2 linked regions of the Homo sapiens genome follow. The protein of the gene in region 1 interacts with the protein of each later gene in a biochemical or structural test. Each region holds a gene or a part of one and is shown in the gene's direction. Other genes may lie near its edges.

The links.
Region 2: the proteins of AP2A2 (region 1) and EPN1 form a complex in vitro, tested with the Homo sapiens proteins (one study listed by BioGRID).

Annotation. Positions count from the first base shown.
Region 1 is NC_000011.10:923,727-927,826, forward strand, and holds the start of AP2A2 (AP-2 complex subunit alpha-2), read left to right. Parts: upstream 1-2,143; 5' UTR 2,144-2,295; coding exon 2,296-2,362; intron 2,363-4,100. UniProt on the Homo sapiens protein: Component of the adaptor protein complex 2 (AP-2). Adaptor protein complexes function in protein transport via transport vesicles in different membrane traffic pathways.
Region 2 is NC_000019.10:55,692,156-55,695,825, forward strand, and holds part of EPN1 (epsin-1), read left to right. Parts: intron 1-530; coding exon 531-641; intron 642-795; coding exon 796-882; intron 883-2,570; coding exon 2,571-2,828; intron 2,829-2,992; coding exon 2,993-3,201; 3' UTR 3,202-3,670. UniProt on the Homo sapiens protein: Binds to membranes enriched in phosphatidylinositol 4,5-bisphosphate (PtdIns(4,5)P2). Modifies membrane curvature and facilitates the formation of clathrin-coated invaginations. Regulates receptor-mediated endocytosis.

The DNA of each region.
Region 1 (4,100 bases):
TTCAAGACCGGCCTGGGCACCGTGGTGAAATGCCATCACTACAAAAAATAAAATAAAGAAAAAGAAACTGTTTCCTAGGACTGCGCACTCCCGAAGCTGGCCTCTCCCGAGCCGAGGAGTGGCAGTGGTCAGAGAGGCCCACATGGACTCAGACCCAAGGCTGGGACTGGAGTGAATCATCTGGAGGGCTTGCGTGTCTGCAAGGGCAACGACGCTGGAAGGAGGTGGGAAGTCTTTTGCATGGCTGCATGTCGGGCCTTCTGGGACCCCTAAACACTCTTGTGTGGACGGGAGGATGTCTGTGGGAATCCCAGAGCTGGCACTGAGGAGGAGTCTTCCGAGTGGGCGGAGGGGGATGCCTGCCAGGCCCAAGCCCTCCTGTGGGCAGCCCCTGCAGCACCCCCATTGCCCTGCTCTGTGAGTGGCTGCTGGTGGGGGGGCACAGTGGTCTGCTTGTCTCGGTCTTCTGCACTGCCACTGCCAATGGGAGCTTGGATTAGGCATGCCAGCCTCCTGACGCCCAGAGCCCATGCTCTGCCCACGTGTGTTAGTGGACGGTCCTCGTGACTGCTGGGACTGTCCTGGAGAGCAGCCCAGGACCCCTCACATGGCACAAGATGCTCTTGTGTCCAGAATGGCCTTTATTTGTTGTCAGGGACAGGGGAGGGAAGCTTCTTGGTGGAAGGGAGAGGCTGAAGAATGAACAGCCCCGGGACCACTTTCTCTGCCAGGAGGTGGCACTGGGAGAGGATAGGGACTCCGGAGGGGTGTACCGTCCTCCAGGAAGCCCTCTGCTGGGTCGGCTCCGTGCCTCTGTCTTGGGAAGTGATGGACTTGGTTGCCTTATGCTGACTGGGGTCTGTCACAGATCTTGGTTTTCCCCAGGAGTTCTGGAGGCCCAGAGCCTGGGTGCGGCACCCGGTTCATTGGGGAGGGGCATGGGTCCTGTGCCCTCCTCCTGGCCGGGCTCCACCAGGGCTAAGCTCTCATCTGGGGCTGCGGAAGTGAGCCAGGGTGGGGACAAAGCCCTGGCTGGTGGGTCTGGGCCAGTTCCAGGTACAGGGTCCAGATCCCCCCACTGCAGCAGGAGGGAGCTTCCTGTTCAAAGCCATCTGGCTCTGGGAAGGACAGTGAGGCAGGGCCATCTGCTTCCCCACTCCCTGGGGTCTCTTCCTGGCCGGGACCTGGAGCTGTGCAGCCTGGCCCAGCAGGTCCTCCCTTGCGATGTGTCCACAGGGGTGGGCCTAGGCCTCCAGCTTGCAGTGGTGCAGAGGGCTGGGGAGCAGAGGGGGCCCTGGCAACAGTGGCCAAAAGTCCTGGCGCCGCCGAGGGACTAGATTCCGCAGGGGCTGCCGCCCCCGGCCGCTGTCACTGGGGTGGGGTGGGTGGTTGTTTCTCTGCAGGCCCAGGTGATGTGGAGGGGGCACCTGGGCTGCCACACAGACCCTGGGCTGGGTCGGGCACGGGGCCTGCCTCGCCCCCAGCTCAGGGACCGCAAGAGATGTGGCCCTGGCGGCTCAGGGCGGCAGGAGGGGCGGGCCAGCCCCACCGTCTCAGGATACCGTGCTAGGGGAGGGTTTCCTCGCCAAAGGCCGTCCAGCGGCTGTGACCCCTTCGCCTGGAGCCCCAGCTTCCTCCCGGCGCCGCCCTCCCGCCCCGGCCCCCGCGGAACAAACAAGGCCCTGGCCTCGGAGCTGCCCCGCCGCCCAGCGCTCACAGGTCGTTTATTCCAAGTAAGAAAACGGAGACTGCTCGGGGCAAGCTAGCGGGGCCGAGGCCCAGGACGAGGCCGTACGCGTGTGCCTGCGTGGCCGCCTCTTTTGCAGTGACCACCAACAACGACAGAGGCGGCCCGCTGCACACGCGGGTTCCCGCCCGGACCCACGCCCTTCCCGTGGGGGACGCGGGCGGCATCGCCAGCTTGGCGCGGCCCCGGGACGCGAACGCGTGGCTTCAGCGGCTCCGTCCATGGTGTCCGCCTGCAGGGGGCGCCCCCGCGCCTGCCTCGACCGGCTCGCCCCCGTGCCGCGGACGCGCGCGCGCTGCCTCACGCGACACCCGCCCCGGCCGCCGTCCGTCGTCGCTCGCGTGCGTGCGCGTGCGTGCTGGTGCGGGCGCCGTACGTGCGCGCGCGCGGCGGCCCAGAAAGCGGCGCTGGGACCCTGAGGCGGCCGTGGTTAGGCGGCTCCCCGGCGGCTCCTCCGCGGCGGTGACGGCGACCGCACTCCCCGCTTCCCGCTCCCCGCGCTCCTCCGCCCGGGTCCGCCAGCCGAGGCCGCTCCCGAGCGTCGGAAGATGCCGGCCGTGTCCAAGGGGGACGGGATGCGGGGCCTGGCGGTCTTCATCTCGGATATCCGCAACTGTGAGTGGCGGGGGCGGCGTGGGGCCGGGGCCGGGGCCGCCGGCGGAGACGGGGTCTGGGAGCGGAGGCCCGGGGCGGGGCCTCGAGGCGGGGGTGCAGGCTGGGATGCGGGCGGGGCCCGGGGCCTGAGGGTGCGGGCGGCGCTCGGGGTCTTGGGGTACCGGGTCTGGGGGTGGGGGCCAGGGTGCGGGGTGGGGGTCCAGGGTCTGGGGGTGCGGGCGGCGCTCAGAGTCTTGGGGTATCGGGTATGGGGGTGCGGGTCAGGATGCAGAGCGGGGCCCTGGGTCTGGGGGTGCGGGGTGGGGTGTCCAGGGTCTAGGGGTGCGGGGTCTAGGGGTTTAGGGCACGGCCCTTCATCCACATCTCCACTCCCGTTTGCTGGTCCGTGCGGGGGGCTGCGGCACCACCAAGGGGGTTCCGGGCCAAGACGCCCCTCCCCAGCATGATGTCACCTTGGTCTTTCTAGTACTGGAGCGTTTAACCCAGCGTTTTCCAAAACGGCGTGGATTTTAGCTTTGGGAGCAGAAATCTGGAAATCAGTGTCTTCCCAGGAAACAGCTTTGTGACCTGGGTTCTGGAGGCTTATTAACCCCTGATTAGATCTCACCTACGACGATTAAAATGACTCATTCCCGGAGGGAATCTGGACACGAGCAGCAGTCGGGGTGTGGGATGGCCTCGCTGCCTGCTGCTCCAATCACAGACCTCGTTCTCAGCCCCGTGCCTGTCCCCTCGGGGTGGGAAAAATCCACACCAAACCGTTAAACAAGCCAGGAAGGCTGGGCCTGTTAGAAGGATGTGCAGGGTGGCTGGGTGGGTGCACCGGTCCACCAATTAATTTGACTTTGGTGTGCAGAACCTCCTCTTGGCTTTCAGAGGCCATCTCCTTATTTAATTTGAGGGAGAAACAAAGCCAGTTTCCTGTCTGCTGCGTTGATTTTTTTCCTTGTTATCCAGCAAATAGTTGACTTCATGATTTTTGTTTTTCTTTTTTTTGAGACAGGGTCTTGCTCTGGCTCTCAGGCTGGAGCGCAGTAGTTCCATCACGGCGCACTCAACCTCCCACCTCAAGTGATCCTACCACCTCAGCCTCCGGAGTCACTGGGACTACAAGCGTGCACCACCACCATGCCTGGCTGATTTTCGTGTTTTTTGTAGAGATGGGGGGGTCTCGCCATGTTGCCTAGGCTGGTCTCGAAATCCTGAGCTCAAGTGATCCACCTGTCTTGGCCTCCCAAAGTCCTGGGGTTACTGGCGTGAGCCACGGCACCCTCATAATTTTTAATGTGTATTTTGAGGGACTGTTGTGATCTTCCCTTTGAATTCTCATCTCCTTAGACGGGATGGAGGATCAGGAGGATAGTGGTTCTCCCACACTCTGTGGAAGGGTAGAGGACCATCTAACCCTTCCTGTACTCTGTTAAAAAAAAAAAAAAAAAGCATAGAGCTGGGTGCGGTGGCTCAAACCTATAGTCCCAGCATTTTGGGAGGCTGAGGCAGGTGGATCTTTTGAGCCCAGAAGTTTGAGACCAGCCTGGGCAATGTGGTAACACCCTGTCTCTACAAAAAAATACGAAAATTAGCTGGGCGTATTGGTGTACACATCTATAGTCCCAGCTACTTGGGAGGCTGAGAGAGGAGGATCACTTGACCCCAGGAGGTTAAGGCTGCAGTGAGCTGAGATCGCGCCATACTCCAGCCTGGGTGACAGAGTGAGACCTTTCTCACAAAAAAAAAA
Region 2 (3,670 bases), on another chromosome or scaffold:
CGGGCAGTGGTGGGGCGTCCTGGGTGCAGGGGAGGGGGCAAGGGCGGGGGTCAGATGAGAGCCCAGCACAGGGTGTGTGAGATTGTGCCTTGGAGGACATGGGGGGTGTGCTGTGGGGAGGGGATGGCAGCTCAGCCGAGGGGCAGAGAGGCTCTGGCCAAGGCAGAGCGTGTGTGACGTAGGCATCTGGGGAGGGCGGTGGGTGGAGCTGGGAGGTGCAGGTGGAGAAGGGGCCTGACACCCAGCTGGACAGGGGAGGGGTGGCCGAGCCGTGGGAGCTGAGGGAGGGCTGGGCAGGTCTGGCAGAGGCTGCGGGGAAGCCCCTCACCCCAGCTGGGGTCCCAGGGGCAGAGCCTGGCAGAGAAGCCCAGTTGGAATTTGAGTGTGTGTGCGGGAGGCCGGGTGGGGTGGGTTTCTGGGGGGCAGGGGGGCTTTTGTGTGAACAGCCACAGATTTGGAGGCAATGGTCCTCCCTAGCCATCTGGGCAGTCAAGGTTGCCAGCCCCTCATGCTCTTCTGTCCTCACCCAGGTGGGGTCCCGGTCAGTGGGCCCTCAGCCTCCGATCCCTGGACACCGGCCCCGGCCTTCTCAGATCCCTGGGGAGGGTCACCTGCCAAGCCCAGCACCAATGGCACAACAGGTACTGGAATGGGGGTGGGAATGGAGCCCCGGGTGGGAGTGAGTGGGAGAAGTTAGTGTTGAGTGTCCTAAGGGAGGGGTGGACGCCTGGACTGGAGGTGGGGGCTGAGGCGGGGCCCCAGGGAGGGGCTGAGCAGAACATCCTGACCCCACAGCAGCCGGGGGATTCGACACGGAGCCCGACGAGTTCTCTGACTTTGACCGACTCCGCACGGCACTGCCGACCTCCGGGAGCAGCGCAGGTGAGCCCCTGCCCTCCCCTGCCCAGTGGCGAGAGGGAGCCTCCCCTAGCTCTTCGGGAGCCCCGTCCCTTGCTGTCTTTGTCCCACTCCAGGCAGGGCCGGCTGGACTTAGGGATGAAAAGTTCAGTTGGGTAGAGTGGGCCAGAACCATCCACCTGTCTTTAAAAGAAGTGTGCATCTTTATTTTAGAGAAATTGCAGACTTAGAGAAAAACTGAGAATTGTTCTCAAGGTTTCCCACCCGAATGTTGACCTCTGACCCGTCTCTGCCTCCACGTTGCTTGAGTGCCTTGCAAACTCTCCAGGTGTCTCAAAGAACACGGACTGTCTTGTCCTGTGCAGTGAGCTGCGTGGACAGGGGTTTGGAAGGCAGCCGAGGCTCCCCTTCCGGGTCGCCACTCACCTGCTGGTGGCTCCTGGGCTGGCCAGGGTGCGTCCTCATGGGTGCTGCCTTTAGCTGCCCTGGCTCCTTGGGGTTTTCAGCTGGCGTAAGCTGGCGCCCATCGCCGGTGACGGGCCCATCTGCTGAGTCCTGAGTGGCTCTTCGTCAGGAGTGCCCGAGGTCATAGTGGGCCACTGGTGCTTCGCCGCGGCCCTCAGCTGATACCTGTCTGTCCCATGATGAGTCAGGTCAGCCTTGATCTCTTATTTTTATTTTAAGTGAGCTGTTAGTGAAGAGCAGGTTGTGGTACAGAAACCTGTTTCCACTGATGAAAGGCTGGCAGCTTGCAGGGAGTGAGCTGCACCCACGCTTCCCTCCTCTCATTATCTAGGTTAACGTAGAGCAACCTTCCAGCATGCAGTTTTCCTTCTTTTAGGCCCTTTTTTGTCCCATACAAATGTGTGCATTTTTTCAACATTAGGTAGAATTCTTAAATCTATTTAAAAGGAAAATCAGGCCAGGCGCAATGGCTCACGCCTGTAATCCCAGCACTTTGGAAGCTCGAGGTGGGTGGATCACCTGAGGTCGGGAGTTCAAGACCAGCCTGACCACCATGGCCAAAACTCCGTCTCTACTAAAAACACAAAATTATTACCCAGGCATGGTGGCGCACGCCTGTAATCCCAGCTACTTGGGAGGCTGAGGCAGGAGAATCGCTTGAACCCAGGAGGTGGAGGTTGCAGTGAGCTGAGGTTGCGCCATTGCGCTCCAACTGGGGAAACGAGCGACACTCCGTCTCAGAAAAAAAAAAAAAAAAAAAAAAAACAGAAAATCAGACCTCTAGCCAACAGATGTCTTCACGCTGGCCCGGAACACGTGTCTGTGCTGTCTGTCCACTTGGAAGCTCCCTCTGGGGCTGTGTACTCAAGGAGCGTCTGAGGGCAGGCTCCTCTGAGCCTGGAGGCACCTGTGAACACGCCCCCGCTGCCTTCCCCCGCGGGCCTATAGACCCTGGACGGCCCCACCCTGAAGCAGTTGCTGCCCTCTGGTTGTCAGAGGGTGACACCTGCTTCTGTCATCCCTCTTGTGTTTGCTCACTGGAATCAGACCCACCTTATGGGAATCTGGGCTGACGTGAGGTTTTGGCCTGGGCAAGCGATGCTTCCGCTCTGCACCTCAGTTCCTCCTTCCCGAGGCCTCTGGGCACCGGGCTCTTTGAAGCGCCCCCTATGATGGCCTATACTGCTCCCGGGTTGGAGCCTCACTGCTGTCTGCCCTGTCTGAGCCCCTCTCCCGGATCCTTCCAGGAGAGCTGGAGCTGCTGGCAGGAGAGGTGCCGGCCCGAAGCCCTGGGGCGTTTGACATGAGTGGGGTCAGGGGATCTCTGGCTGAGGCTGTGGGCAGCCCCCCACCTGCAGCCACACCAACTCCCACGCCCCCCACCCGGAAGACGCCGGAGTCATTCCTGGGGCCCAATGCAGCCCTCGTCGACCTGGACTCGCTGGTGAGCCGGCCGGGCCCCACGCCGCCTGGAGCCAAGGCCTCCAACCCCTTCCTGCCAGGCGGTGAGTGTGGGCCCATCACCTGCTCAAGTCCTTCCTGTGGGTTCCACCAGAGGAGGTGCCTCACGGGGCAGGGACACTTCGCCCTTTGCCTGCACATGCTGGATGGACACAGGTGGGCTGCGCCACTGACTCCACTCCGTGTCTCTGGTTTACTCTTCCTGCAGGAGGCCCAGCCACTGGCCCTTCCGTCACCAACCCCTTCCAGCCCGCGCCTCCCGCGACGCTCACCCTGAACCAGCTCCGTCTCAGTCCTGTGCCTCCCGTCCCTGGAGCGCCACCCACGTACATCTCTCCCCTTGGCGGGGGCCCTGGCCTGCCCCCCATGATGCCCCCGGGCCCCCCGGCCCCCAACACTAATCCCTTCCTCCTATAATCCAGGGCGGAAGGGGGCCTGGCTCCATCCGGCTGCCCCATTCCGGCTCCCTGGGAGATCAGTGTTGTGAGTGCATGTGAAATGGGGGATCCCCACCCCCAGTGCCCTTCCCCTTCCTGGGGCCCACTCACACTACACCCTCTTCCTTTCCCACCCCACCTCCCCGGAGAGAAACTGGACATGGGGCCTGGGGAGGGGAGCTGGCCAGAGGAGGACCCCTTTCCCGTGGCATTAGAAGGGGGAGGGGTGGCTGGGGCCCCCACCCATTCCCCCTCCCTCCAAACTCCCAACCCCCAGTCAGTGTTTGAGCCTCCTCGTTCCCCTCACGCACCCGCTCACGCACCCTCGGTGAATCCTTGGTGATGATTTTGGCAACTTTGGGAATAAATGGCAATTCCCACGGGCTTGGCACTCCCAGATTCCCATCTGTGATTTCGTGTGTCCCCCAGAGCCCCTTCATCCAGGGACC